Homo sapiens: one gene and its partner. The protein of the gene in region 2 interacts with the protein of the main gene of each other region in a pairwise test. Each region holds a gene or a part of one and is shown on either strand. Other genes may lie near its edges.

Region 1 (3,500 bases), on a different chromosome or scaffold from region 2:
CCATTCAATTACTAATTATAAATATTAATTATATTATATTATATTCTTCCTTACACTGATGCAGTTGTAAAATATGATTTTTAATATTTTTTTAAGTGAAGGAGGAGCCCACAAAGACAGAAGTGCCCAGGGCTCAGGAGTCATAATGTGGCCCTTCCTTTCAAGGTTCCTGGAGGATATCTTCTCTAGGAAGTCTTTATAGACTGTGAGGGAGGAATAGGTGGGAAGGTGGGGGAAGAGAAATGCAAGACAGGGGTAGAAGAGAAGAGCTGGCCTTTAGTGATCCCATCATTTAAAGTATAAGCTTTCTTCCTATCTGTGATTTCTATTCTTTTGTCTATTGCTGTCTCTGAACTTACACTTGCTTGGACCCAGTGGATAGGAGACTGTCCTAAATCACTACTTCACTCATGTCACTCGCTGGATCAAGAATGCAGCCAGGTGAGGTGGCTTGCGCCTATAATCTCAACAACTCAGGGGCAGAGGAAGGAGCATGGCTTCAGGCCGGGAGAGTTGCCTGAGCAACATAGCAAAACCCTATCTCTACAAAAAATTTTAAAATTAGCTGGGCGTGATGGTGCACGCCTGCAGTCCCAGCTGCTCAGGAGTCTGAGGTGGGAGGATCCCTCAAGCCCAGATGTTTGGGTCTGTAGTGAGCCAGGATTGTGCCACTGCACTCCAGCCTGGGCAACAGAGTAAGATCCCATCTCTTAAAAAAAAAAAAAAAAAAAAAAGGTCAGGCACAGTGGCTCATGCCTGTAATCCTAGTACTTTGGGAGGCCAAGGCAGGCGGATTGCCTGAGCTCAGGAGTTTGAGACCAGCCTGGGCAACATGGTGAAACCCCGTCTCTACTAAAATACAAAAAATTAGCCGGGTGTGGCAGCGTGTGCCTGTAATCCCAGCTACTCAGGAGGTTGAGGCAGGAGAATTGCTTGAACCCGGGAGGTGGAGGTTGCAGTGAGCCGAGATGGTGCCACTGCAATCCAGCCTGGGTGACAGAGCAAGACTCCATCGCCAGAAAAAAAAAAAAAAAAAGAGAAAGAGAGAGAGGACTGATTCAACGATCAATTTTTTAAAAAAAATTTTTAAAGGATATAAATATACAACTGAACAAGAACAAAACAAATCAACTAAAAAATGGGACAAGACTTGAATAGACATTTCTCCAAAGATATACAAATGGTCAATAAGTACATGAAAAGATGCTCCACATCACTATCACTAGGGAAATGCAAATCAAAACCACAATGAGATACCACTTCACACACAATATGATGACTACCATTAAACAGAAAGTAACAAGTGTTGGCAAGGTTGTAGAGAAACTGAAACCTTTATGCATTGCTGGTAGGAATATAAAATGGTGCAGCTGCTGTGCAAACCTATATGGTGGATCCTCAAAAAAATCAAACACAGAATTACCACATGATATAGCAATTCCACTTCTGAGCATACATCCCAAACAACTGAAAGCAGGGTCTCAAGAAGATATTTGTACACCCATGTTTATGGCAGCATCAGTCACAATAGCCAAAAGGTGGAAGCAACTCAACTGTCCATCATAGATGAATGGATAAACAAAATGTAATATACACATACAACAATATTATTCAGCCTTGAAAAAGTAGGAAATTGTGACATGCTACAATATGGATGAACTTTGAGAATATTATGCTAAGTGAAGTTAGCCAGACACAAAAGGTCTATTGTATGATTCTACTTACATGAAGTACCTAGAGCAGTCAAATTTACATAGACAGAAAATAGAACGGTGTTTGCAGGGAAATGGGGAATCAGTGTTTAATGGGTGTCAAGTTTCGGTTTGGGAAGGTAAAGTTCTGGAGATGGATGGTGGTGAGGAACATGAATTACTTAATACAGTAGTCCCCCCAGGCCAGGCACTGGCCTGTAATCCCAGCACTTTGGGAGGCCGAGGTGGGCGGATCACGAGGTCAGGAGATCAAGACCATCCTGGCTAACACGGTGAAACCCCGTCTCTACTAAAAATACAAAAAATTAGCCGGGCGTGGTGGTGGGCGCCTGTAGTCCCAGCTACTCGGGAAGCTAAGACAGGAGAATGGCGTGAACCCATGAGGCGGAGCTTGCAGTGAGCTGAGATGGCGCTACTGCACTCCAGCCTGGGTGACAGAGCGAGACTCCGTCTCAAAAAAAAAAAACAACAGTAGTCCCCTCTTATCTGCGGTTTTGCTTTCCTAGGTTTCAGTTACCCGTGGTCAACTGCAGTCCGAAAACATTAAATAGAAATTTAACAGAAAAAGAAAATTCCAGAAAGGAACAATTCATACATTTTAAATTATGTACCGTTCTGAGTAGCGTGATGAAATCTCACACCCTGCTCCATCCTGCCTGGAAAGTGAATCATCCTTTTGTGTCCATGCTATAAACGCTTAGTAGAGTACCACAGCGCTTGTGTTCAAGTAACCCTTATTTTACATGACAGTGGCCCCAAAGCACAAGAATAGTGATGCAATTTGGACATGCCAACAAGAAGTGCTTCCTTTAAGTGAAAAGGTGAAAGTTCTTGACTTAAGAAAAAAAAAAAAAGAACTGTGTACTGAGGTTTCTAAGATCTATAGTAAATAAGACATTTTAAGTGAGAGAGACCATTTTCACATAACTCTTATTACAGTATATTGTTATAGTTGTTCTATTTTATTATTATTGTTAATCTCTTACTGTGCCTAATTTACAAGTTAAGCTTTATCATAAGTATGTATGTACAGGAAAAAACACAGTATAGATGGGGTTCAGTACTATCTGAGATTTCAGGCATCCACTGGGGTTTTTGGAATGAATCCCCTGTGGATAAGCGGGGACTACTCTACCACTGAATTGTCTGCGAAAAAATGGCTAAAATGGTAATACCTGTACTATGTTTATTTTACCATAAATTTTAAAAAAGAAAAAATGGCATGAGCCTGTAATCCCAGCACTTTGGGAGGCCGAGAAGGGCAGATCACTTGAGGCCAGGAGTTTGAGACCAGCCTGGCCAACATGGCGAAACCCTGTCTCCACTAAAAGTATACAAATTAGCCAGGCGTGGTAGCGCACGCCTGTAATTCCAGCTACTAGGGAGACTAAGGTGGGAGAATTGCTTGAACCCAGGGGGCGGAGGTTGCAGTGAACCGAAATTAAGCCACTGTACTCCAGCCTGGGTGACACAGCAAGACTTGGTCTCAAAAATAATAATAATAAAATTTAAAAAATGTAAACAGCTCCCCCTTGCCAAGGTTCTAATCCCTCAGCTAGCTGCCAAGGTATCACCTTTTTTCCCTTGTGGGCAGGATTATTCTGGAGGTCCTCTGCCCACCCGCTTCCTGAACATCCTCCAGGGTAAATCGTCTCTGTAGCTTCACACATGGTATGAGGTATTCTACCTTTATCTAGAGCAGGTACACACGAAAAAGGTATTCTACGTTTCTCTAAGATACCTGCTGCGCCCCTTTGCCTGTATGAACCTTGTCCGTCTTTCAAGGGC
Region 2 (2,599 bases):
AATTTAAAAAACATGTTGGCTTTGTGACCGACTCTTGAGAATTACAACTTTTTTAAAGTGTCTATTATGTACTTTAATATTCTCTTTGGCAGATATTGGGCAGTTGCATTACCTGTCTACCTCCTTATTGCTATAGTAATTGGCTACGTGCTCTTGTTTGGGATTAACATGATGAGTACCTCTCCACTCGACTCCATCCATACAATCACAGGTAACTTTATATAAAAGGAAAGTGCTGGGGCAATGAAAGAGTGGAGTATTAGCACTTTTACCCAGAAAAGCAACAAAGAACAGGCTGCAAAACCCATGTTGGTGGTGCGCGTCTGTAATCCCAGCTACTTGGGAGGCTGAGGCAGGAGAATCACTTGAACCCAGGAGGCAGAGGTTGCAGTGAGCCAAGATCCCACCACTGTACTCCAGCTTGGGTGACAAGAGTGAAACTCCATCCTAAAAGAAAACACACACACACACACACACACACACACACACACACACACACACGGACAGTAAAAAGAAGCTACTAAGAGAAATAAATACAAACTTATATAAAAGGAAATATTTGCATGAAGGAATTAAGTTCTGATGAATACACACTAGCTATATTCATGGAGGAAATAAATTATAATTAATTATAGCACTGGTTAGCAGGTGTATGTTCCCATAAAAACCACAAGTATATGCTATATGTGTCTATAATATGTTCCCATTAACTTTGCCTGAGAGAAGCTTATCCTGAACAGACACCGTTGATCAAGGGATAGTAAATAGTACATGCAGACCTTGTTCAGAAAAAGGACTTTGGGGGTGTGTATCCTCCTCAGGATCATTGTGTACTCCTTATTCCAATTAAGTGGATAAAAGAGCCACAACACGTTCGTCTGGTTTTATTTTTTTAAAGTTCTTTCAAGTCTAAAGATGAAAATAAATCAGACTCCTGAGCTTGCTTAAATTCTAGAAAGTAAAGTATTTTTTAAGTTCCCTGGTATGATTTTTCAACTTTTCAAAACCTTTATATATTAGCCTCTACAATGTATTTTGAAAATCAATTCTATTATTTTTAAGTGTCTTTCTAATACACTGCATTCCATGCATTCTTGATTGGAATTGGCAGCAAATAGGTAATTTGTGCAAAGAGGGGAAATTGTTAAGATTGCATGAATATTTATACCAAATGATTTAATAGTTTTGCCATGTTGATTTAAATACATTTTCAAGGCCTGGATATAATTCTGTTCCCGTGAGAAATGTGCAAATGAGACTTTAATCATCATTGTATGGTTGATTAAAATATTGATTTCTTTCCAAGTTAGAGATGAAAAAAGTACTTTACTGATGTTTTTATTTTTTTATTTTTATTTATTTATTTATTTATTTTTTATTTTTTATTTTTGAGATGGAGTCTCGCTCTGTCACCCAGGCTGGAGTGCAATGGCGCAATCTCGGCTCACTGCAGGCTCCGCCCCCTGGGTTCACGCTGTTCTCCTGCCTCAGCCTCCCGAGTAGGTGGGACTACAGGCGCCCGCCACCTCACCAGGCTAATTTTGTGTGTTTGTGTTTTTAGTAGAGACAGGGATGTTTTTATTTTAATTGGGACATTTCTTCTAAAGAGAGGATTTAAGTAATCATCTAATTATGTTAAACATGATGTTTGTCACTATCCAAACGTCAGCCTAGTAAACTATGTGGTGGGTCTCCATCAGACACAGAGACTGTAGAAGAAATTGCTTAGGTAAACAGAGCTTTTTGGTCTTTTCTTACAGATAACTATGCAAAAAATCAACAGCAGAAGAAATACCAAGAGGAGGCCATTCCAGCCTTAAGAGATATTTCTATTAGTGAAGTAAACCAAATGTTCTTTCTTGCAGCCAAAGAACTTTACACCAAAAACTGAACTGTGTGTAACCATAGTAACACCAAGCACGTATTTATTTATAAGTTTTTGCCATTATAATTTTGACCATAAATTAATTTGACCATCTCTCTTATTAATAGAGAAGTAAAAAATGTAAGTTGACCTTCTCTTAGATTATGTTCAATGAATATTGTAAATGTTCAAGTATTGTTAATGAATAGAATAAATACAATATTGCATTCCCATATAGCAGACTTAAAAAAAAAAATCAATGTCAGTATAATCAAGAAGTTCCTCCAGAGAGGCATTTATATTGTAATTTGCAAAGGGCAATGATGTCCTTCCTCCTGTTTGTCCTGAGGGGCCCAGAATTCAAACCCTTAGTTTTTGGGAAGGGTACAGTTAGTACTTGTGCCATCAGATTCATGTCTAAGACACAAATATTTGTTGAGTACTCACTGTGTACCAGGTATTTTTCTAGGCACTGAGGATGAAGTAATGGTAAGATTCTCTCTCAAAGAGCTTATAGTTTTAGAAGCAGGGTGAGGCAACTAAGCAAATAAACAAGGAAATATAATTTGATGAGTGCTATGCAAAGAATTAAGATAATGTATTCTAGAATGCAAAGGGATGACTAGTTCACATTGGGTGGTCAAGGAAGGCCTCTCAGAGAGAGGCTGTTGGGATCTAAGTATAAAGCAGGTGAGGCAAAGACCATAAGGTGGGAAGGAACTTGGTTTGTCCTAA

What was found. Proteins that work in one complex are often made in the same cells at the same time.
Region 1: the proteins of PIGP (region 2) and SMAGP interact in binary tests that used the Homo sapiens proteins (3 or more experiments, as listed by UniProt).

Annotation. Positions count from the first base shown.
Region 1 is NC_000012.12:51,263,916-51,267,415, forward strand, and holds part of SMAGP (small cell adhesion glycoprotein), read right to left. Parts: intron 1-3,500. UniProt on the Homo sapiens protein: May play a role in epithelial cell-cell contacts. May play a role in tumor invasiveness and metastasis formation.
Region 2 is NC_000021.9:37,064,874-37,067,472, reverse strand, and holds the end of PIGP (phosphatidylinositol N-acetylglucosaminyltransferase subunit P), read left to right. Parts: intron 1-92; coding exon 93-211; intron 212-1,760; coding exon 1,761-1,891; 3' UTR 1,892-2,099; downstream 2,100-2,599. UniProt on the Homo sapiens protein: Part of the glycosylphosphatidylinositol-N-acetylglucosaminyltransferase (GPI-GnT) complex that catalyzes the transfer of N-acetylglucosamine from UDP-N-acetylglucosamine to phosphatidylinositol and participates in the first step of GPI biosynthesis.